Linked DNA regions of Homo sapiens. The protein of the gene in region 4 purifies or fractionates together with the protein of the main gene of each other region. This does not show direct contact. Each region holds a gene or a part of one and is shown on either strand. Other genes may lie near its edges. The genes, in order: AMER1, PHLDB3, PPP1R15B, MAP10, AKAP11, WDR62 and GPBP1L1.

Region 1 (3,500 bases), on a different chromosome or scaffold from region 4:
CTGAGATACCTTAAGCTCTGCATGGTCTGAAATCCCCTTTCTTGCTGGCTGTGATAAATGGACCCTCATTTTCTATCTTTCCCCTACACTCCACAAAAACCCCAGCCCCTATAGTCAAGCCTAATTTAGGTTGCTTCTCTTCCCTTATCTCAATTAAAAGACCGTGTTCCTTGTGATGAGATTATGAAAATTTCCTTTAGAGGAAAAAAGAACAAAAATTCAAAAGCATCTGCAACTCAGGTAGTCACAAGCTTAAAAGAAGGAAAAAAAATCCTATCATTCCGGAGCTCAACACTCTATGGCAGTGTCCACAACAGAACCTTGTTTTGTCTTCTGTTTGCAAATGGATGAATTTTATCACTCCATCAAGGGGATTAGCATTTTTGTCTTTAACCCAAGCTATGGCAGGACAGTTAAAAGGCCCCCATCTGGTCATGATGCCAAAGTCCACAGCGATAGGCTGTGAGACACACGCTACTTGATCCTCTCTAAGGACAGCTAGCTGGGATGAATAGCTTATAGTCATCTGATATAATGATGGCAGCTATGCCAGGCCAAAAGGAATAGGGGTGGGGAGGATCTGTACCATAATTTCACATTGCTAATAGCAAATAAGCCCCACTTCCCCAAGCGGGAGGCAATGCAGACTTGGCTGCTAATCAGTGGTTCATCATTCATTGGGGGAAAGGGGCAGGGGGCACTAAAGGTTTAGCCTGTGTCAAGGATGCATGCTATATATGTGTGTGCATGTGTGTTTGTGTGTGTGTGTGTATGTATGTGTGTGTGTGTGTGTGTGTGTGTGTGTGTATATATATATATATATATATATATATATATATATATATATATAATCACTAACTTGGCAACTGGAATAGGCACAAAATTACAGCATCCCAAACCCAGCGTGGGTCACAAGAAGAAACCTCGAAAGCAAAAACTGGAGTGCAGTAGCAGCAGCAGCCTCCCTGGGCAGATGCACTTGAGTTGAACGTGGCCATAGATGGCAGAAGAGGCAAGTGGGAAAACCAAGGTGAAAACTCACAGGAGTTTTCCTTGGCCCAAAGGGTTTTCAAGTTAAACAACAACCCCCACCCCCCCACCCTTCTGCCCAACCCCTGATCCCCATTCACATGCTCAGGCCCCGTGTCCCTACTCCAGAATTGATAATAACTACTTGGCTAGGTTTCCATTCATGGCAGTGGAGGAGTAGCTGGTGGCAAGAGAGGCACCTTGCTCAGCCCTCTCCTTTGACAGGTCAAGGCTGGAAGGCCCATAGTGAGTGGGCTGAGGCTGGGGGTGCTCAGGCCGGACCCTGGGCAGCTGAGGAATGCCATGGGTGATGCCCACAGGCTTGGCCTGTGGTAGAGGGCTGGGGCTGAAGCCTCCAGAACTGGAAGAGCAACTGGGCTCATCAACAGGCAGCAGCACATCTCGAGGCCTGGCCCTCATGCTCTGGGAGGCCTGTGGCTGGAGGTTATAGCAAGGGCCCATGGGCAGGTGTAGGTGTGAGGGACGAGCTAGTTGAGGCCCAGATTCCCCAGGTGCCCTTGACTCTGGCACTGATAGTGATATTGACATGGTCATAGGAGGTATGCAACAGGTTGCCTGCCTATATGGAGACTGGCTGGAAGGCCTGTCCAACTGGTTGGGGCTTATCCAGGCAGGACCTGGCCCCACTGGAAGAGGACAGGGAGCCCAAGCAGGCCAATCATAGGCCCCTGGGGGTTCAGTATAGAGGGAAAGGGGACTGTCTCGGCTCCATTCTCCTTCTTCCTCCTCTTCGTCCTCCTCATCTGAATCTTCCTGCTGGGCCTGCAGCTCATCAGACTCGAGGTAGCCCTGGACCAAGTGGGAATTGGAGAGCTCCATCTCCAGGGTCTCTGCAGTGTCGAGAGAGCGGCTTCTCCTGTTGAGGGCCATAGCAGCAGGTGGAGGTCGAGGGTGCAGGCCAGGCAGTCCCAAGTATCGAGGGAGGCTGCTCACACCCCAGGGCAGGCCTTGGTAGAATCGACTATGGTAGTTGTTGAAGGCATGTTTGTGATAGTAGCCCAGCTCAAAGGCTTCCAAGGAGGCTGCAAGATCTTCATCATTGTGGAACTCAGGATTCTCTTCACACTTGCCTTCCCCATCCCGTTCCACATCAGCGATGTCAAAGGTCACCATGGGAGGCAGCTCAGGGAGGTTTTGAGTGAAAGATGAGTCAGAGTCAGAGCTGCAGGACATGCTGGAAAAGAGGTTCCCATTGCTGGTGAACTCTACCAGGGCCTGTGAGAAACTCACAGTGGCATTCCCTTCCTTCTCAACCTCCTCTTCCTCTGGATCTTCAGGGGGTGAATAAGTAGGGTAGGCCCTCCTGGGAGATCCTCCAAAATTTGCTTCTTGCATGTCTGGCTCAAACATGGCATCACTCTGGAAGAGCTGCATCAGGCAGGTACTTTGATCTTTCTTGGAGCAGGTTCCTTCATAACGCTTCTCCAGAGGACGGAAGTCCCTCCAGTCTGGCTCGCTGCTTGCAGTGGTGGGGAAAGCTGAGGTAATTCCCCGGTGGGAAATCTGAGAGGTCCCTGATACCCCTGCTGCCAGGCCCATCACTGATGGGCCTAAGGGCCTCATCTGATACTCTAAGACGGGCTTCTCCTGCCGGGCCTGGGTCTCTCGGACTTGAGTCTCTCTACAACGAACCTCTCGGGCCTGGGCTTCTCGGGTTCTGGCCTCCCTGCCATGAGCTTCCCAAGTGTGGGCCTCCCTGGCATAGGCTTCCCTGCCATAAGCCTCTCGAGTATAGGCCTCCCTGGCGTGGGCCTCCCTGGCATGAGCTTCTCGGGCACGTGCCTCCTGGGCCTCAAGCTGCTCCCGCCGAAGCTCCCAATACAACAACTGTTTCTGGATGGTCACTAGCCGTTCTTCCTCTGTCTCCATTGCCCCAGGTGGCCGGGAGGACAAAAAGGGCTCAAAGTTTAAGAAGGGGTCAAACATCTCAGAGCTTCGACCATGGAGGTCATAAAGGCAGTCATCTCCAGGTGGAGAGTTCTCAAGGCTGTCATCTGGCTCATAGAACTCATATAGGGCATCTCCACTGTAGCTGTCTCGGGGTAGACAATCCCTGCGGACAAGCCCCAGGGCCTCACCTGAATCATCCTCAAATCCAGGTGTGGTGGAGTCATAATAACCTTCATCACTATTGGGGGCGGATTCTTGCTGGTCACTCTGAGGAGTCAAAAGTTCCCCAGGGGCTAGGCCAGGATAAGACCTAACTGGGTCAAGGAGCATGTAGCCGTGGTGGCCTGGGGATGTGGTGGGATGGTAGCCCAGGTTCATATTGGGCCGTGGATACATTTGGGCAGTTTCCCACAGATATTCTAAGTCATCATCTTCTTCCTCCTCCTTAACCTCCTCTTCTTCCTCCTCTAATTCCACCTCTTCTTCCTCTTCTTCCTCCTCGTCATCATCATCTGGCAAGGCCATCTCCTCCCCACCTCCTTGGTAGGTCACCAGGCAGG
Region 2 (3,500 bases), on a different chromosome or scaffold from region 4:
ATTGTGGTAATGTTTGCGCAACGTTGAATATACTAAAAGACACAGAACTGTACATTTTAAATGAATGAATTGTATAGGGACGTGAATTATGCCTCAATAAAACTCTTTCTAAAAATCCCACTGTGGGCCAGGTGTGGTGGCTCACACCTGTAATCCCAGCACTTTGGGAGGCCGAGGCGGGTGAATAACTTGAGGTCAGGCGTTTGAGACCAGCCAGGCCAACATGGTGAAACCCCGTCTCTACTAAAAATACAAAAATTAGCCAGGTGTGGTGGCACATGCCTGTAATCCCAGCTTTTCAGGAGGCTGAGGCAGGAGAATTGCTTGAACCTGGGAGGCAAAGGTTCCAGTGAGCCGAGATCTCGCCACTGAAATCCAGGCTGGACGACAGAGCGAGACTCTGTCGCAAAAAAAAAAAAGTCCCACTGCAGCCAGGCGCAGTGGCTCACACCTATAATGCCAGCACTTTGAGGCTGAGGCAGGCAAATTGCTTGAGCCCAGGAGTTGGAGATGAGCCTGGGCAACATGGTGAAACTCTGTCTCTACAAAAAAATAGAAAAATTAGCTGGGCATAGTGGCACGTGCCTGCAGTCCCAGCTACTGTGGAGGCTGACGTGGAAGGATCGCTTGAACCCCGGAGGTCAAGGTTGCAGGGAGCTGAGATTGTGCCACTGCGCTCCAGTCTGGGCGACAGAGTGACAGCCTGTCTCAAAAAAAATAAGTAAAACAAAAAAACAAAAAACCCACCGTGCTGGTGGCTATGTAGGAAACCCAGATGCCCTCACATGATACTGGGGGTGTTCTACTGGAACAAGCTTTATGGAGGGCAACTTGGCTTTTTTAAAAAAAATCTGAATGACAAATGCATAAACCATGGAGCCCCAATTCCAATTCTAGAAATTCAGCGGATGGATACACTCATACACATGCAAAGTGATCTGAGTTCAAGGTGATTCCCTGCAGTGCCATCTGTGCTAGCAAAAGCCTGGAGACCACCTAAATGCCCATCAGAAGGGGACAAGGTAAATGAACCATGGCTTATGCACTCCATAGACCATTTTTTTTTTTTTTGAGTTGGAGTCTCACTCTGTTGCCCAGGCTGGAGTGCAGTAGCACAATCTCGGCTCATTGCAACCTCCGCCTCCTGGGTTCAAGCGATTCTTCTGCCTCAGCCTCACGAGTAGCTGGGATTACAGGCATGTGCCACCACGCCAGGCTAATTTTTGTATTTTTAGTAGAGATGGGGTTTCACCATATTGGCCAGGCTGGTCTCGAACTCCTGACTTCAAGTGATCCACCTGCCTCGGCCTCCCAAAGTGCTGGGATTACAGGCGTGAGCCACCGCACCCAAGTGACTCTAAGGACAATTCTGCAGTGTAGAACAAGAGGAAGATGCATCCTACATCCAGGTAGAACATAATATCCAAAAAAGAAAAGAAAAAAAACAGAACATAATATCCAAGAGAAAACCAAGGCCAGGTGTGGTAGCGTGCACCTGTAGTCCCAGCTACTCAGGAGGCTGAGGTGGGAGGATCACTTGAGCCCAGGAGGTTGACCCTGCAGTGAGCCATGATCATGCCACTGCACTCCAGCCTGGGCGACAGTGAGATCTATCTCTTAAAGTTTTTTTTTTTTTTTTTTTAAGCGAGTACAGAACAGCATAGAATAAACTAGGTATGCATAAAAGAGGGAGAAAGTACATACATGACTAGCTGTGTCAACACAGAATATCTCTGGGGAACACATGGGAAATTGGTAACCCTGGTGGCCCTCAGGAAGTGAACAGCGTAGGAGGGGGAACAAGAGCCGCAGAGTCTTCTCTGAATATCCTCCCACACCATGTGAATTTTGAACGAGGAGAATGTTAACTTTTTAAAAGCAAATAAACATGACAACTAAATGCAACCTGTGTTCCTGAGCCAAGAAAAAAAAAGTTTGTTTTTTTTTGTGAATTTTTTGCTAGAAAAAACACTGGTGGGGCCAGGAACAGTGGCTCATGCCTGTAATCCCAGCACTCTGGAAGGCCGAGGCAGGCAGATCACCTGAGGTCAGGAGTTCGAGACCAGCCTGGCCAACATGGTGAAACCCCGTCTCTACTAAAAATACAAAAATAAGCTGGGCGTGGTGGTGGGCACCTGTAATTCCAGCTACTCGGGAGTCTGAGGCAGGAGAATCACTTGAACCAGGGAGGCAGTGGTTGCAGTGAGCCGAGATCACACCACTGCACTCCAGCCTGAGCGGCAGAGCAAGACTCTGCCAAAAAGGAAAAAAAAAAAGAAAGAGCAAGAGAGAGAAAAAGGAAGGAAGGAAGGAAGGAAGGGAAGGAGGAAGGGAGGGAGGGAGGGAAAAACATTGGTGGAACAACTGACAAAATACAAATAAGGTCTGTGGATTCTAATAGTGTTGTCTCAGTGGTAGTTTCCTGAAATCGATCATTGAACTGTGGTTGTGTAAGAGAATGGGCTTGACATTAGGTAGTAAATTTAGGAATATTTAGGGGTTAAGGGGAATCATGGGTAAGAAAATAATGGGCCAGGCATGAAGGCTCACACCTGTAATCCTAGCACTTTGGGAGGTCCAGGGAAGGCAGATCACTTTAGCTCAGGAATTTGAGACCAGACTGGGGCAATATAGTGAGACCCCATGTCTACAAAGAATACAAAAATTAGCCTGGCGCATGTCTGTAATCCCAGCTACTTGGGGGGCTGAGGCAGGAGAATCGCTTGAGTCTGGGAGGTAGAGGCTGCAGTGAGCCAAGATCGCACCATTACACTCCACTCCAGCCTGGGCGACAGAGCGAGACTGTCTCAAAAATTGAAAACTAAAAAAAATAAAAACTCTGGGAGTTGAGAAATGTTAGCTCCACTTCACAGAGAAGAAACTGAGGCTCAAATCCCCGTGCTTTACTTGACTTTTTCCTTCCTTCCAGCCACATTCCCAGCACTTCCTAGCTGGGAGATATTAGATACTTGGCACTGAGGAACCAAGTGGGCAGGTCAGACCCCAGCTTTGTCTGCAGGGCACTTATGTTGTAGGAACTGCATAAGCCATCAGCAGGCCATAGAAACAGGCCGGTTCGGGTTCAAATCCCAGCTCTGCCACTTCCTGGGTGCATGACGTAGGCAAGTCATTTCTCTTCTCAAGCGAGGTGTCCTCTCTGTAAAGTGGGTAACATCTCACTGCCCTTCCTGGGTTGTTGCAAGGATTAAATGAGTGACCTCCTGCAATGCATGTAGAAGCATGCATGGCCCCCAGGTGAGATCCAGGAGCTAAGCAATGATCCACATTGGTGGGTACAGGGTGCACCTGGGCTTAGAGGCCTTCTGTGCACAGGGGCCAACAAGTCAGGTGACAACTCCATAGGACTGGACATGGCGTCCCACCAAATATTTTCATATATGCAATTTACTAATAAGGGTAATTGCTATCCTAAGTCACGTTGCCTGGCAACACAGCTGACACCTACCTTCATCAGGTTTCCAGGGGAAGCAGCCAGAAAG
Region 3 (2,968 bases), about 28 Mb from region 4:
ATCCAACTAAATCAAAAAAGGGAGGATTAGAAATCACACTAGTTCATCCTTCATTATCAGGGCTGGCTTCAAACCTGAATGTTTCTGAGTGGGATATGTTGCAAAAAAAAAAATTAAACTAGATCCAAGTTACATTTCCTCTAAAAAAAAAAATGTCAAAGGACAGCTGCCAAGATTTGTTTTTAAAAGACACCTCTCAGGTAAGAGGTAGTGTATGCTAGCTAGGACTACAGGCTGCCAACTCAACATTGCTTGAGAACATTAAGTCCTTTGAAGCATGTTCCCTGGAGTCTATTAAACATTCTTTCTCTGTGTTCAAATGTCAAGCAATATCCAATAGCATCTTCTGTTTCTTGAATTCGTTTCTGGAACCTGCATCCATCCCTTGCAAATTCTTCCCATGGTCCTTTGCGATCCTCATCACCACTTATATAATACTCAGTAACTTCTTCAAGGAAGGTTACCTACAAAAACAAAGACTAATTTTAATAACTGTCTAGGATCTTACAATCAGCATTGAGGTCAATAACCCTTTATGCTACCAATTCTTTCAGAATATTCCCAACTAAGAATAACATATTATTATTAGGAATATTTGGTCCCAGCTATATTTGAAGTTAAAAAAAAAGTTCTGTCACGCCTGTAATCCCAGCATTTTGGGAGGCGGAAGCAGGCGGATCACCTGAGGTCAGGAGTTCAAGACCAGCCTGACCAACACAGTGAAACCCTGTCTCTAGTAAAAATACGAAAAAATTAGCCAGGCGTGGTGGCACATGCCTGTAATCCCAGCTACGCAGGAGGCTGAGGTAGGAGAACAGTTTGAACCTGGGAGGTGGAGGTTGCAGTGAGCCAATATCGCGCCACTACACTCTAGCCTGTGCAACAAGAGCAAAACTCTGTCTCAAAAAAAAAAAAGTTCAGATTAGATGGCATTTGGATAAAATAGTGAACAAATGTCACCTAAATATTTCATATAGAGATATATATCTTTCATCTATATATACTTCATTTATCTATATCTGCATAATATACACACACAGTCGTCTGCCCCCCCCAATCCCCCACCAGCCCTTGGCTTTTGGTGTTAATAAAATGAATCCAGATAGGGAATTGAATTTTTCATGCTGTTATTAACCCCTGCTATTTTTTAATCCTTAGGGAAATACAGTTCTGTGATATTTTTCCCTCAAAATGACAAGCAAAATATTTCTGAAAATAACCACTATATCCCTGGAAGTCACTGTTTTTATCACTGCATAAAGGCTTTAACAATATTTTTGCTTACTTCTATTCTTTTTCCTTTTAAAAATTTTTTTCACTTTCCAACTTTTAAATCAACATGTTGTACTATTTTTGTATCATTACTTTGGCAATAACAATACAGAAGAGAAAAAGTTACTTAGTAAACAAAGTATAGCAAAATTAGTATTTTTAAAGCTGTGTTACTCTAAGAAACTTTGTAGTTAAGATTTTAAAAACCTTTGTATTCAATATGCTATCACTATATATGAAATTGTGATTCTAATATACATAATGACATGTAATGAGTGACAATCCCTACTCATTACTAATCACTACTTAATTTCTAATGAAGTTTCTTTCTAAGATATCAAACTCCAAAAGTAAATACTTGCTTTCAAGTATGTTTAATAGTTACATCAGCTAACCCCAATGTGGCCTACTACTTTCGTTCCCTTTACATCAAGCCAAGGGATGCCCCTGAGGACAATTAGCAGGTATGTAACACCTTACTAGTTATTGCATTCTAGTCTTGAATACTACTCATTCATTGTGTCATTAAGATAAATAATAAAAACGTACAGTGTTTACCATATACCAGGCTTTTTTTAAAGAGCTTTACATTTTTATCTCATCTAATCCTCACATTAACCCTATGAGGTATGGACTATTATCATCCCCATTATACCGATAAGAAAACAGAGGTAGAAGGGTTTTTTAGACTCACTGTCCATCATCCTATATACTCCATATATTCCATACACCATTCCCCATATATACCAATGGCAGGTAGTCAAAGGCTGTCAAATAATTATATCATATTCAGACATAATCATTTATAAATTCTGCTTCTAGTTCATAGTCAATAGTATCATCTACTCCACTCATTTCATTTTACTCAACGAGCAAGCTAAAACAAGACATGAGACTGGCCTGAGGTCTCTCAATAAGAGCTAGCATTTAAAGGCAAGGCAATAAATTCTGAGTTTTATTTACTTGTCTCATTTAAATCTTGCAATAACTTGTACAATAGATATTATTATTTTACCCATCAAGTAAGAGTGAATTGAGGCCATGAGAGTCAAGCAACTTCCCAGGTCTGGCTGCCTTCCAAATCTCTGCGCCTTAACCACTGAGGAGTAGAGAACACAGGGCTCCAGCTGCCAAGTGCTCATTCCATTGCCCCACTTTGTTTCTTACCTATTCATTCTAAATAGGTCATTTTGTCAGGGGCCCCTTAAAAGGACAAAGAGAGATGGCATTTACAAAGTGTGAACTAAAATTTAATCTTTAACATGACTTATTCTGCCCTAAAGGTAAGACGTAAGATTATCACCATTTTGAGACATTTTCTACCCAGGAATAATTTCAAAGTAGTAAGCTGGCCATGTGGAGCCAAGAGATTATGGTACTGTCCATTTGAAACGCCCCAGTGAGGCAGAATCTGAGGTCAATAATAACTCACCCACTAACTTCTCTCTCCAAGTAACGGTATAGAAAACTAAAAAAACGTTCCCTCTACAATAATAGACACCTTTGAGTTTGGAGAAGAGTTCAATTAATAACTTTAGTTGAATCAACTATAAAGAAAAACAAACCAACTCTAAAGACTCCCAAAATAAGGTTAACCTGACAATGTAATTAAAGCGTAAAATGCTGCATGAAGTTTTAAGACTAGCCTGGGAAAAGGAAGCAACTAGTCAAGATAAACCAAGTAAGTGGCCATCAC
Region 4 (4,018 bases):
GACAGAATATAGTCCAAATTCTTTACCATGGCATTCAAGGCTCTCCAAAAACTGGCCTTGGATTCCTAGCTGGCTAGCTCATTGAGGTTAGGAGTATGTTTCTTAAAATATCTGGATAGAGCAGCAAGTTCTGTGTGTCTCTGTAGATGTGTGTATATTTATGTACACACATTTGTTTTATTGATGGAATCATTAACATTACTCTCATGCATCATGATTGCTTAGCTGGAAATGTTGTCAAATAAAAAACAGGGCCAGACAGTAGTTGAAGTGGCAAAAACACTGTAGTCAGGAACTACTGCAATAAGAGAAAAGAGACCTCAATACAGAGCTGGGCTCAATTCCAATTACAGCATGGACAAGTGGGGATTTAAAGCCAAGGGGGCGTCAGGTCAAGTGGATGGAAACTTACTGATAGGGAACATCACGGGTGGGAGGGTTCTGATTAAGCAGGCCTAATAGGATTCTTGCTGAAGCCAGGCCAGGGTGGTCAGATACCAATGATAGAAAATGAAGAATTTGATCAGGTATCGACGGTAATCAGGTATGAAGGGTTGGGGGTTCTCTCTCAACAGCCGTAGCGAGACCTTTGCTACAACTCGGTGATCCAGGGTCCACAGGATTGGAAGCCAAGGTCAAGGCCTAGTCGGAAAGAAGGCTTAGATGAGCCTGACCAAAGTTCAGCCAAGGAGAGTTTTTGCCAGTGTATTCACACTCCGTGTGTGTGTGGTGTGTCTGTCTCAGTACTACTGTAATTGATGAGGCAGGGGCTCCCTGGCCATCCCAGCAGTGTCACCATCTTTTGGGTAGAACAGCAGACACAGAGATGGCCCACTGTGGACAGTTAACTAACTGGCTCTGTTTAGCATGGGAAAGGAAGGAGAGTCCTGATTTTCTTTCAATATTCCTCAGGTATATTGATCTGACCCCCAAGTTACATAAGATCTGCAGTGATAAAACCATTACCCAAAAAACTCACTGTCTTTTACCACTTATATCCTCAGCATTATCATCAATTGTCTTAATACAAGGTTGGTGGCAAAAAACGGCTCACAAGTATGCATACAAAGGGGCCAAACACATTGAGCAGCAAAACCCCCAAAGCAGACACCGCCCGAGACCCGCTGGAGCGCTTCCGCAAATCTCGCGAGATAGCAGGCAGCGATGCCTTTTGCTCCGGTTTCTCGTGAGACCCCGGGGCTTCAGCTTCTCGTTTGCGGAGCCCGCGGCGGCGTTTCCTGGGGCAACAGCAATGGCGGCCTCGCTGTCCGAGCGGCTCTTCTCGCTGGAGCTGCTGGTGGACTGGGTGCGTTTGGAAGCCCGGCTGCTGCCGTCCCCCGCTGCCGCAGTGGAGCAGGAGGAGGAAGAGGAGGAAAAGGAGCAGGGGGAGGCCTCGTCGCCGCGCGGTCTGTGCCCCGCCGTGGCCTTCCGCCTGCTGGACTTCCCCACGCTGTTGGTTTACCCTCCTGACGGCCCCGGCGCTCCCGCCGCCGAACCGTGGCCCGGTGTCATCCGCTTCGGTCGCGGCAAGTCCTGCCTCTTCCGCCTGCAGCCTGCTACCCTGCACTGCCGGCTCCTGCGGACCCCGCTTGCCACCTTGCTGCTGCAGCTGCCCCCTGGGCGCCCGACGCCCACCCCACAGCTCCTGGGGGCCTGCGACATTTCGCTGGCCACCGCAGCGCACAGGGTCGTGGGGCCGGCCGCCTCCGGATGCTCCCACCGTCACCGGGGACGTTTCCCCCTGCATAATCGAGTGGGCGAGCGGACTGGGGACATTGCACTGGCCTACCGCCTGACTGACCTGGGAAGCCGCCTGCTGAGCCAACTTGAGCGGCCCCTCACCTTCACCCGCACAGGAGGAGGAGCGGAGGTCAGTCCCCAAACCCAGCAGGAAAGACAGCAGCTGCAGCAGCCAGCCTCACAGCCAAGCCCAAAAGAGGCTGATAAGCCGCTGGGGGAGTTAGAAATCCCAGAGGCACAGAAGGATTTGAAGGAAATGGTTAAAAGTAAGGCCGAATGTGATAATGTGGGTTCTGTGGAGAATGGCAAAACCAATTCTGTTGTTACATGTTCAGGTGCTGGCAATGGGAGAAATGTTAGCTCCCTAAATGAGGAAGTCACAGAATTGGACATGGAGACCAATATATTTTGCCCTCCTCCTTTGTATTACACTAACTTGACCCAAGAAAAACCGCCCCCTGCACAGGCTAAAATCACCATTGAGCCTCAAATGAATGCACCTGAGGAAATGGATGATGCTTCTCCTGAAAAAAAGCGTGTAAATCCCCCAGCACACAGGAGTTGTCTAAAGCATCCAAGTTCTGCAGCACACGAACATCCTCCAATGCTTGTAAATCCTCCACATATTCAGAATATAGGAGCAACTAATCAAACATGTCAAACTGAACAAAATCGAATTAATACAATAAGGCAGTTGCCTTTGTTAAATGCTTTGTTAGTTGAGTTGTCCTTGTTATATGACCAACCTGTGACAAGTCCTGCTCATATACATCCTCACCTAGCCTGGTTATATAGGACTGAGGATAAGAAGTCACCCGAATCTTCTGCCAAATCCACATGCCGGTCTGAAGCCAAGAAGGATAAGCGTTCTGTGGGGGGATGTGAAAAGTCAGTGAGTCTTCAGTATAAAAAGAACCAAATTGAAAACTATAAGGAAGATAAATATTCTGAAAAGAGCAGTGGTGCCCTCCATAAAAGAGTTCCAAAAGGGAGGCTACTTTATGGCTTAACAAATACACTAAGACTACGTTTAAAGCTGACAAATCCTGATATGTTGGTGGTACATGAAAAAAGAGAACTATATAGAAAAAGACAATCACAAATGTTGGGTACAAAATTCAGAATTCCGTCATCCAAAGTTAAACTATTAAGCTCTGCAGAACAAAGTCAGAAGCCACAACTGCCTGAAGATAAGTATTTAGATTCAGATGCATCTTTCACTGAAAATAGTGATACCTCAAGACAAATCAGTGGAGTTTTTGATGAGCCCAGCACAAGTAAAGAAACTAAACTGAAATATGCAACTGAAAAAAAGACAGTTGATTGTAGTAAAAATAGAATCAATAATGTTTCATTGGAAGAAGTTGTGAGTCCTGCAAATTCCATTATTCCAGAAAGGCTTACCCCTACAAATATTCTGGGAGGAAATGTGGAAATGAAAATCCAAAGTCCATGTGTTTTCCAACAGGATGCTGTTGTTGACAGAATTGTAGATAAGGAAATAGATATTAGACAGGTCAAAACCACAGATAATGACATTCTTATGGCTGATATAAGTGACAAGAGAACAGGTAAAAATAGTTGCTATGAAAACATCTCAGAACTGAAGTATTCAGATGATTTGTCTAGCCCTTGCTATTCTGAAGATTTCTGTACCAGTGAGGACACCAGCAGAAGTTTCAAAGCTCATGATAGCAGTTCAAGGACAGAAAATCCAAAACATAGTCAATATACAAGCAAGTCTAGTGACACAGGAGTGTCCAAAAAGAAAAATAGTAGTGACAGGAGTTCTATCCTTAGCCCACCTTTTTCAGCCGGGTCACCTGTACACTCATACAGAAAATTTCATATTTCAAAGACTCAGGATAAAAGTTTGGAGGAAGCATCTAGTATCTCTGCTAGTGATTTATCTTCAACACATTGGACTGAACAAAAAGAAAACCAGATAGATCAAAATAGTATGCACAATTCTGAAATTACAAAGAGAGCTCAAGACATCTCTGTTAAAACAAGAAGTAGTTGGAAATCTTTAGAAAAAAGCCAGTCACCACAAACATCCCAGGTGAGTTCTTACCTGCCTTCAAATGTGTCCGAACTTAATGTCCTGGATAGCAGTACATCAGATCACTTTGAAGAAGGCAATGATGATGTTGGTTCACTAAATATTTCCAAGCAATGCAAAGATATTTGTGAATTAGTAATAAATAAACTTCCAGGATACACAATGTAAAAATACATGCTTTTAAAAAACTTTCAAGGACCTATGTGTACTGTTAGT
Region 5 (3,500 bases), on a different chromosome or scaffold from region 4:
ATTTTCTGAGCCTAAATGCATTTATCCATGTTAAACATAATTATTTTAACCTCAGCTTGATTTGGTCTTTTTAACCTTTGTTCTGTTAATGAGATTCTTTTTTCAGCCTGTGTTGAATCATCCACAAATGAGTATTCCACATCATTAATAAATAATGCTAAGGAGGACAGAACCAAGGACAGAAACCGGTAAGACGACTCCTTTTTCTCATCAAATTAGATAATATTCAGCACAGAGTTGTTCAACTGACTACAAGTCCTCTTAATGCTTAAAGCCTCTACCCACACCTCAATCTCCCATTTTAACGCCAGGATTTCCTAGGCAACACTGTCAACCCCACTGAAATCATAGAAGCCTGTGTTTCTCAAAATGAGAGAAGAAACTAAATGTTAGTATCCTTTTCTAGATAAAGTTATAGAAAAGGGCCAAATCATGATTTGTGACATTGCCCCCACTTGCTTCTACCAGTTTTAAACACTGTCTTTTTGGACCTAGATTTTAAGAAATATTGGTGGTTTATATAGCACCATAATAAACTATGACAAAATATACTTTACAAAAATATTAATATTTCCAGGTTAATCCAAGCATCGAACAAAACTCTTCGAGATGAAGTGTTCTATCAGGTGAAAAGCCATTTCCTTTCCTTATGCTACCTCATTCCCTTTTCCAAGAGTTGCCTTCCCTCCCACACCTAGTTTGCCATTTCCAGGGGCTAAGTTCAACTGATGGTCCACAGGTCCTTTCCACACATGCCTGAAACCAGCAATATGCTAAGAACCCTTTCCTCCCTCAAGACTCTGCTACAAATGGTATCTATTATTTCCAGTTATCACTTAATGTGGATAAAGAGTTTATAGAATTTTATAGGTTAGTCAGAAATGCCTTTAGGTAGAGGTTAAGACTATAAGAAACAACTGTCTCATAATTAATAAAATATTTCAAACACCACTGTTATGAACAAAGTTAACTAAGAAAAGTTATATATGAGGTAAGTGCCTTGTGCTATACAAAATCACATTTTTATAATGGCTTTGACTTACGTATTTTCAATCATTCAAGCATAAGTCTTCCAGGTCATTTTGTTCCTAACAGCAGGACAAGCAGGGACCCTCGCCCCACCAAAAAGATACTATTTTAACTAATGTCAGGAAAAGTACAGGGCTACTTTGATGCCTTTTACAGATACCTGTCCTTTTTCTTGTTCTTTAAAGAAAAAAAAGTACCCTTTTTAAAGTGAAAAAAAAAATTTTTCCTCAGAAGTTCATAAAAAGTTTGGGAGAAGCTTAAAAGGCATAAAATTAAATGTATGCAATATTTTTCAAATCAACTATTGGCACACCCCAATAAAATTAGCTGGGCTACTTACTGTATTAAATAAGTGTTAAAAACAATTAGAAATACATTGTGAATAATAAAATACATTTTGAAAGTAATAGCATATTTTCAAATTTAGAATTTTTAAATAATAATGTAAATTTATAGCTCACTTCTAAGATCTGAGGACCTAAACTACACAATTATATGCAAAAGTGTAGTTACCTTTCACTTAGATGATGAAAACTGCTGCTTTCATCTTGGTGTTCATCTTCAAAACTTAAATTGGACCAGCTACCAGTGCTGTCATCACCAATACTGAGGTTCATCTGCTGGCTACTGACAGACTCGGTTGACTGAAAGTCTTCTATTTCTTTTGAACTAAAAAGAAGAAAAAAAGAAAAAAAATCAAATTGAAAGCATCCCAGATTCTGAACTTACAAGACTATCAATTTGATGACAAAGATGATAAAAACAAGAAATGGTATTCGGAATCAGACCAGTGGCTCATGTAATCCTTTATTTGAGTCTGCCAACAAACAGACTGTAGGATAGCGTATTAATTTCAAAGTTAACTGAGGTACCCACCAACAGCCATAACTTACTTTGTTAATCTACAATGGATCTATCCCTAGGGCATTATTTCTCTAAATTCTACTTAAAGCAGTTCATTTTTCAACTGAGATACCATGGGGCAGTACAAGTTCCTAAGTTATCATCTGCTTTGTAAAACAGTACTTTTATTTATGTTAAAGGAGTCTCTTTCTGGCTTTAAGAACAAAAAAGTCGTTCAAGAAATTCTAGTATTGTCAACCAAGCCTGTATTCAAACTAACCAAATCTCTTCAAGATTTTGAACATAGATCATAACCCCTTTCATTTTTCTCAATAAGAGGCATTTATACTTTTATTCCATCATCACAAGAAAGTCCATTCACTGCTCAACTATTTTAATTGTCCCACTACATTTTATGTTCAACAAAGTAGTTCAAAGTGATGTTTCCATAAAAAGAAAAAATGTCAGTCTTCGGATCAAAACCTTCCAATGGCTTCCCACCAAGCCGAAGAGCCCAAATCCTTAAAACATACTGCCTGTCCCCTCTTATAACATCCATCTGAACTCCTACTGTTCTCCCTGGCCCACTCCTCCTATGTTCTCCCTGGCCCACTCCTCCCACTTCAGCAATACAAGCCTCTCTGTTGTTTCCCAAACATGCACAGTCCCACCCCTAGGCCTGGAAATCTGTTCTCGGTGACTCCCACATGACTTATTCTCATTTCACTTTTGGTTTTTGGCTCAAGTATCACTTTGCCAGTATTGTTTCCCCTGCTACCTATCCAAAACTGTAAACCAGCCCTAATGGCCACCGCCACTGTCACCACCAGCACTCTCTAACTCCCTAACTCCCTACCTTGCTTTATTTTTCCCCCAAAGCACTTATCACTATGTGACATACTATATATTTTACTTACCTATTGTCTTATTCCACTATAACATAAGCTCCAAGAGAATGCAGATTTTTGCCTGTTTTACTTACTTCCGTATCCCTAGTGCTATCCTGAGAATAGCCCCTGAATTGCCCCCCATTTTTTCAGCTATTCTAATTTTGTAAGATACAGAATGATACTGAGCATTCCAAGCATAGGCACATTATAGTTCTGAACCATTGATAGATTACTACTTTGTTTTTTTGAATACTTTTCCTAATATGTGCCACATTCTCATGGTTTTTGGCTGAAATGACCCAAAGGATGAGGTCCAGAGAAGAGTTTATAATGACTGTGAGGTTATTTTGGCTCGGAATGATAGCTTAGAATATAATCGTTTTGTTGGCTAAAAATGCACTATCAGCCAGGCACGGTGGCTCATGCTTGCAATCTCAGCACTTTGGGAGGCTAGGGCAGGAGGATTGCTTGAGCTCAGGAATTCAAGATCAGCCTGAGCAACATAGTGAGATCTCATCTCTACAAACAAACAACAACAAACAAAAATGAATAAAAATGTACTATCACATAATTTCCCAATTGCATTCACATGCCACCTCTCTGTTCATTACAGTTTGTGAAATATTTATGGTCATGTTCATGAATCAAACAAAAAGGGACATCAGGTGAAATAATACCTTAAAGAATAATCCATCTGAATGAATCTCCTTTCAAGTTTGAAAGACAAATTTAACTTTA
Region 6 (2,856 bases), on a different chromosome or scaffold from region 4:
TCCTGAGTAGCCGGGATTATAGGTGCAGGCCACCATACCCAGCTTGGGCAAGCCTGTTCATGGGTCCTCAGTTTCCCCTGTTGCAGATGGGGACACCACCACCGTGGACTTTGTGGGATCTAGTGTGGCCTTGGCCCAGAGGCCCTGAGCCATGATATGGCAAAGCGTGGACTGCTGGGCAAGGTAGGCACATGGTGATCACAGCAGCCCCAGTGAGTTCTCAGGCACTGGCAGGGGGCAGGTAAGAGGGTCTGGCTCCTCCCTGGGGCACAAATGGGCCCCACTGGGTAAGCACCTCACACTGGTCTGTGGCAGCTCTGTGGGCAGTGTGGGAGGACTGGCCCTGAGGTCATGGCTGCAGTTCCTGAACTTCTTGGGAGCGCTGGTCCCATGCTCTCCACTGACAGACACGAGTCCTCTGGGCATCACCTTCTACCCTCCCTCCCCACTTCCACTTGAAGAGGGCTTTGTGGATAGGCCCAAACAGACACCAGGAACCATTCCTCAAAGCTGTCAGTTTATTCGCTTAAAATACCTAAGTCCTCAGAAGCAGCAGGGCTGCGGTGGAGGGGCTGCGCCCTCAGTGCCCCCGTGCCTTCCTCCGCACGGCCTGCACCAGCAGCTCCGAGTAGTGTTCCAGCAGGGCCTGCAGGTCTGGGCTGGCCAGGGGGTACAGCGTCGGTGGGGACGGGGGTCCTGGGCTGGGCAGAGCCTGGGCTGGGGCCACACTAGTCCCCACCAGGCATTCAGCCTCCAGCTGGCTGTGGATCCACAGGAAGGTGGAGACCAGCTCAGTCCGTGCCTGCTGCTGCCCGGTGTCCACCTGGCCACTGGAGACCAACTGCAAGGGATGCCAGCCTTGTCAGGGGCCACCAAGGCCGGGCGGTCTCAAGAGACCCCTCAACCCTTTCCCAACTCTGGGGCTTAGCTCACCACACGGTAAAGGTCGAGGGCTTCTTGGAAGGTGGTCTGCAGCCTGTGCAAGATGTTCCCCACCCTGCTCAGCTCAAGGGGAGATGGGGGCAGGGCTTCAACCGGCACCCAGGGCTCACTCCAGCGGGCAGGGCTGCCCTGTAACAGACCAAGTGCACCTGGGGTAGAGAGAAGGGAATGAGCAAGATGAGCTGCATTCCATTGGTGTGAGCGGCCAGAGCGACTGGGTGGACTCCATGCTGTACTTCTGTCTGGAACACTTCTCTGGGTCCCCAAGGCTCCCTCCCCTTCACTCCTACAGGTCTCTGCTCCAATGCAGCCTCCTCCCTGAAGCCTCTTCTTATCTTCTGGTTTGTAATCCCAACCCCTGTCCCCACCCTGCACTCCCTCGCCCTCCTCTGTCCCTCCTAAGCATGTGTCACTTCGTGATACATATGACGGGTTCCTTAAAGGTTTAGTCTGGGCATTGTCCCCATTGAAGCTGTCAGTTCTCTGTGTTGTTTACCACCATGTCCCATGTCCCAGGGTTTAGCACAAAGCCCAACATGTAATGCTCATTAAATATTTAAGTTAATGCACGAATGAATGAATGGCACAGTCCCTGTGGCCAGGTCAAGTATCCATCTTTGGAGCTGAGCCAACTAGCACACAGGATGAGCTTAGGGGACAGTCCTTGCTCCAGGGCTGTACTCACCGGAGGTGGGCTCCAGGAGGGAGGCAGTGCCGCCAGGGATGCCAGGCCGGGCCTCTGGAAGCTGGGGGTTACTGGGGTGGGCAGGAAGGCCAGGGGACTCAGGAGCTGGGAGACTTGGGCGAAAGGCAGAGCCGTGGAGCCTCAGGGCGCTCTCTTCCACAGGGCTAGGGGCTGGGAAGCTCACTGCAGGGACGGTGACGCCAGGCTGGGTATCCACGGGGGGCTGCAGGAGCCCATCACAGGCACTTGACAGGGTCAGTCTCAGGTTGGCCCGGGCCTCGTGGTTGCCCCAGGAACGCAGGGCAGGCTCTTGGCCCTCACTGTCCAAACTGGGTGTTGTCGCGGTGGTGATGGCCTGAAGCTCCTGGCCCAAGGAGGCCAGCTCCCCAACGGACGATGGCCTACGGAGGGGCTGGGCCAGTGTGGCCACGATAGGGCCCTCACTGTCACCGAGGGAGATGCTGCGTGATATCCTGGCACGGGAGCTGGCAGTGGCCTCCATGTAGGAACAGGTGGAGGGGGCATGGACACCCTGAGCCAGGCCTGGGGTGGGTGCAGATGTGGGCGTTGGGAGATTCCTGTCTGTGGGCAGCACGGAGGAAGCAGGGACACAGGACGCCAGGCTCGTAAGGCAGGGAGCTGTAACGGAAGCAGATGGCACTGACTCCACCACACAGAACTGATGGCTAGGGCCCCCACGCCCCACAGCTAGGCTGGACATCCGGCCACTCGCCGAGAAACCCAGGACTGTCCGTCTGGGACTGGGGCACTCACGTGGTGGGCGCCAGGCCTCCAGGGTCTCTTCAGCCTTCCCTGCAGCGAGGACCTGCAGGCACAGCTCTGAGGTGAGGACAAGGCCTCAGGGTTCCCAGCCCCGTGCCCTGACGGAGGTGGGCCCAATACTCACGTGGGTCCTGTCTGGGGAGGCGTAGCCAGTACCTGCTCTGGGCTGGCTTCCGCCTCGGTCCATGAGCTTGACCTCTGGAGACTTCACAAGGCACTGGGTTGCCCGGGGAGGGAAGGTATGGGTGAACCTGTGGGGAGGAGAGCAGGGGGGATGATTCTCATTCAGCCTGCCCTGGGGCACTGTTGAGGAGCCAGAGGGTGGGCAGTGCTTGGCCAGCTTCTACCTGGATGCCTTCTGGAGGCTTGAGAGGAACTGCGTGGAGATACTCAGGCGTGGGTTGAAGAAGTGGTCTTCAGCTTCAGAGGCCTCCACGTCTCCCAGA
Region 7 (3,500 bases), about 190 Mb from region 4:
GTAGTTTCCCCCTCGAGACTTGTGATAACCACATCTTTTAAATCTGTAAATAATGTTATCAAAATAATCTTAATCTTTGAAATCTCACAAAAATTTATATTTTACAATCCACCCTGAATATCAAGGCTGCAAGAATAACACAACATTTCCTATATCCAAATATTTTACAGCTGTACCCAAAAAGGAAAAAGAAAAAAAAAACAAAAAAAAACAACCAAAAAAACCCACATATGCTTGGTTAAGGGCTAAAGTTACCCGAGCAGCCAAAAATAAAATAAAATATCCAAATTATTAGCATTAATTTAATACAATTATAACTTCAATAGTCACTTTGTCATTGACAATGATTGCTTGATCACAGGGGTGAGTGCCCCAAGGGCTGGTAGTAGAAGCTGTTGCTGCAGACCAGTGTCTCCTCTTCCCTGCACTGCCAGCTCCTACCTGTGCATCGCCCCATATATACTGGGTGTGTATGTGTGTGTGTGTGTGAGTGTGTTTAAAAAATCTGTCCCACCACACAAACTTCTCTCTATAAAGCAGATAACAGGGAAGAACAATAACAAAAGCAAAACAAGCCAATTGCTCTCTCTTTGGGATATGATTATTTCCCTTGTGAATGAAGTATTCAACAACATAAGAAAAGGAAAAGAACGATTTCTTTTGTATACTCCCTAAACACACAGAGTTTACTGGGTCAGATTTAACTGTGAGCATTTATATGCCTACTTCCAGGCATCGTCATCTGATGTTTCACTGCTACTGGTTTCGGTGTCTGAGTCCTCAAACTCTGCTTTGCAAGTGCTTCTCCAAGGGGAGAACAGACTGGAACTGCGGCTCTGCAAGAAGCCATTCTTTCCAAAGCCATTTCTTCTCAGCTATGGTTAGCATGGGAGAGAAAGAAAAAAGAAAAAAATATCAATGACTGTACTGACCCATAAGCCCTGGGAAAGGCCAGGCCTCAATTCAATTCTAGGTAGAATGTGGGGCGGGGGGTGCTTCTAAGAGACCCTCTGAGATCTCTTATACCAGTACTTTTCAAATTTTAATTTACGAGTCATCTACGCATCTTTCAAAAATGCAGATTCAGATTCAGAATGTCTGGGATGGGGCTTGAAAGTCCTTATTTCTTTTTATTTATTTATTTTTTTGAGACGGAATCTCGCTCTGTCACCCAGGCTAGAGTGCAATGGCACAATCTTGGCTCACTGCATCCTCCGCCTCCTGGGTTCAAGCGATTCTCCTGCCTCAGCCTCCCAAGTAGCTTGGATTACAGGCGCACACCACCACGCCTAGTTAATTTTTGTATTTTTAGTAGAGATGGGGCTTCACCATATTGGCCAGTATGCTCTTGAGCTCCTGACCTCGTCATCTGCCTGCCTCGGCCTCCCAAAGTGTTGGGATTACAGGCGTGAGCCACTGTGCCCAGCCATAAGTCCTTATTTCTAACAGAGTTCTAAGTGGCAAGGTCTCACATCAGCTTGTGCCATGCCCCTTTTAAGGACTTGGCCAATTGTGCTGTAAATACAGGCCACCAGAAGTTCAAGGATTTTTATAGAAACCCCATTTGTCTTGTTCACCCTAAGATCTAGCAGTGTTTTATTCAGAGAAAGAATCCAAGCAACTGCTGGATAAACTGACACAAGCTATTTAGCTTCTTAGCTCTGGCCAGAGGACCAGGAAACTACAGTGCAGATCAGGAAGCAGAGGAAGGTGAACCTGCTTCCTTAAAGACCAAGAGCTCAGACCATAGCTCTGGAACACAGCCTTGTGGTTCTGATAAGGAGTTAGAGCTGTTAGGATGAAAGAGCATACTATTTTTTGGAATCTGCTAATCACTGACACTTGGTTTTTGTATATAACACTGGGGATCCTTATTTCCCAGGCAGATTTAGGGGCCCCACTACATTTCTACTAAGGTAATCCCCCCCCCCCCCACCCGATCTTTCTCTCACATTAAACTTGCTCCCTCAGGGCAAGAACTGTCTTGACTCCTTATTCTCCTGGTTACTAACTGGTCTCTAGGAAGAAGGTTTACAACATACCTGCTCTGTCTTCATGTGGAACTCTTTGAGCTCATCCTCTGTGAGGGGAAGGCAATTCTCATCATTTTCAGGATATTCCTGCCAACCCATAGCTTTCAATAACCTGGTGGACGCAGAAGGACAGGTAAAGAGAATACAACATCACTAAGCCTAAGTGAACAGCCCACCACTTTTCACAGAAAAGTTTTCTGCCCAGGGGCAATGGATGTTAAAGAAGGAATTTTGTTTTCCTCCCTGTGGGACAAGCTTTAATTGTGGCTACCTGGGTGCTGTAAATAAATGGAGGCTCTTCACAGTTGAGAGAGGAAGAGCTAAAGAAGAGACAGTAGAAGCAAAACCAAGACAGTGTAAGGAAGAAAGAGAGCACTTGCAGTCTGGCTTTTTTTTTTTTTTGGGATGGAGTCTCACTCTGTCACCCAGGCTGAAGTGCAGTGGTACAATCTCAGCTCACTGCAACCTCCGCCTCCCGGGTTCAAGCCATTCTCCCGTCCCAGCCTCCCTAGTAGCTGGAATTACAGGCGCACACTACCATGCCCAGCTACTTTTTGTATTTTTGGTAGAGACAGGGTTTCGCCATGTTGGCCAAGCTGGTCTCAAACTCTTGACCTTGACTGATCCACCCACCTCAGCCTCCCAAAGTGCTGGGATTACAGGCATGAGCCACTGCGCCCGGCCTGAAGTTAAAAGTATTAAAGTATTGGAGAGTAGATTGTGGAAAAGATGGCTGAGTTTGAGAGAGAATGCTTGATGAGCAACAGGCCAACCTGGGGCATACACAGAGAACAAGTTATGACTGGGCCACTTCTCTCTGCATGTGGGACCTATCTATCTGAGATATCTTCTCCAGTATGTTCAAGGTCCTTAAAGGTCAGACACTGCATGCCCTGTGATGTCCTCCTCACTTACCTGTGCTCTGCTTCTAGAGAGTGTGAGAGAACCTCCCCTTCTTCCACTACAGGGAGGGCAAGACCATTTTGATGACAGCCTTCCTCCCCATTTTCCTTTGGTTCAGGTGTGCTGTTGTCCTCCAACTGCAATAAGGAAAAGGAAGGACACAGTTGGTTTAAGGTTCCTTTGTAGTAATATAAGCAACCTATGAAATCAAGGACTCACGACCCAGGAAGTGTTTTCCAAAAGACAGCCTCAGCCCACAGATTTTTTTCCCCATTTACAAATGAGGACCTGCTGCATCAACAAAACTGATTCTAAAGTTTTAATGAAAAGGCAAAAGATCCAGAACAGCCAACACAATACTGAAGAATAAAACCAGAGTACTGATATTACCTGACATCAAGACTTACCACAAAAGCTGGAGTAATTAAAACAGTATGGTAACAGTGCTCATAAGAGGTGTGGGGGGAAAAAGTGTGGTACTGGCAGAAGATGACACAAATAGTCCAATGGGACAGAACAGAGAGCCCACAAATAGACAACTGATCTTTGACAAAGGAAATACAA

Evidence for each region.
Region 1: the proteins of MAP10 (region 4) and AMER1 purify together in Homo sapiens (affinity purification with mass spectrometry; one large-scale study listed by BioGRID and IntAct). This does not show direct contact.
Region 2: the proteins of MAP10 (region 4) and PHLDB3 purify together in Homo sapiens (affinity purification with mass spectrometry; one large-scale study listed by BioGRID and IntAct). This does not show direct contact.
Region 3: the proteins of MAP10 (region 4) and PPP1R15B purify together in Homo sapiens (affinity purification with mass spectrometry; one large-scale study listed by BioGRID and IntAct). This does not show direct contact.
Region 5: the proteins of MAP10 (region 4) and AKAP11 purify together in Homo sapiens (affinity purification with mass spectrometry; one large-scale study listed by BioGRID and IntAct). This does not show direct contact.
Region 6: the proteins of MAP10 (region 4) and WDR62 purify together in Homo sapiens (affinity purification with mass spectrometry; one large-scale study listed by BioGRID and IntAct). This does not show direct contact.
Region 7: the proteins of MAP10 (region 4) and GPBP1L1 purify together in Homo sapiens (affinity purification with mass spectrometry; one large-scale study listed by BioGRID and IntAct). This does not show direct contact.

The regions. Positions count from the first base shown.
Region 1 is NC_000023.11:64,188,709-64,192,208, forward strand, and holds part of AMER1 (APC membrane recruitment protein 1), read right to left. Parts: coding exon 1,171-3,500; 3' UTR 1-1,170. UniProt on the Homo sapiens protein: Regulator of the canonical Wnt signaling pathway.
Region 2 is NC_000019.10:43,487,747-43,491,246, forward strand, and holds part of PHLDB3 (pleckstrin homology-like domain family B member 3), read right to left. Parts: intron 1-3,500.
Region 3 is NC_000001.11:204,405,850-204,408,817, forward strand, and holds part of PPP1R15B (protein phosphatase 1 regulatory subunit 15B), read right to left. Parts: intron 465-2,968; coding exon 243-464; 3' UTR 1-242. UniProt on the Homo sapiens protein: Maintains low levels of EIF2S1 phosphorylation in unstressed cells by promoting its dephosphorylation by PP1.
Region 4 is NC_000001.11:232,804,198-232,808,215, forward strand, and holds the start of MAP10 (microtubule-associated protein 10), read left to right. Parts: upstream 1-1,218; 5' UTR 1,219-1,252; coding exon 1,253-3,970; 3' UTR 3,971-4,018. UniProt on the Homo sapiens protein: Microtubule-associated protein (MAP) that plays a role in the regulation of cell division; promotes microtubule stability and participates in the organization of the spindle midzone and normal progress of cytokinesis.
Region 5 is NC_000013.11:42,306,652-42,310,151, reverse strand, and holds part of AKAP11 (A-kinase anchor protein 11), read right to left. Parts: intron 1,699-3,500; coding exon 1,543-1,698; intron 1-1,542. UniProt on the Homo sapiens protein: Binds to type II regulatory subunits of protein kinase A and anchors/targets them.
Region 6 is NC_000019.10:36,102,753-36,105,608, reverse strand, and holds the end of WDR62 (WD repeat-containing protein 62), read right to left. Parts: coding exon 2,758-2,856; intron 2,662-2,757; coding exon 2,535-2,661; intron 2,454-2,534; coding exon 2,402-2,453; intron 2,267-2,401; coding exon 1,628-2,266; intron 1,092-1,627; coding exon 934-1,091; intron 842-933; coding exon 581-841; 3' UTR 501-580; downstream 1-500. UniProt on the Homo sapiens protein: Required for cerebral cortical development. Plays a role in neuronal proliferation and migration.
Region 7 is NC_000001.11:45,627,534-45,631,033, forward strand, and holds part of GPBP1L1 (vasculin-like protein 1), read right to left. Parts: intron 3,074-3,500; coding exon 2,949-3,073; intron 2,146-2,948; coding exon 2,043-2,145; intron 876-2,042; coding exon 723-875; 3' UTR 1-722. UniProt on the Homo sapiens protein: Possible transcription factor.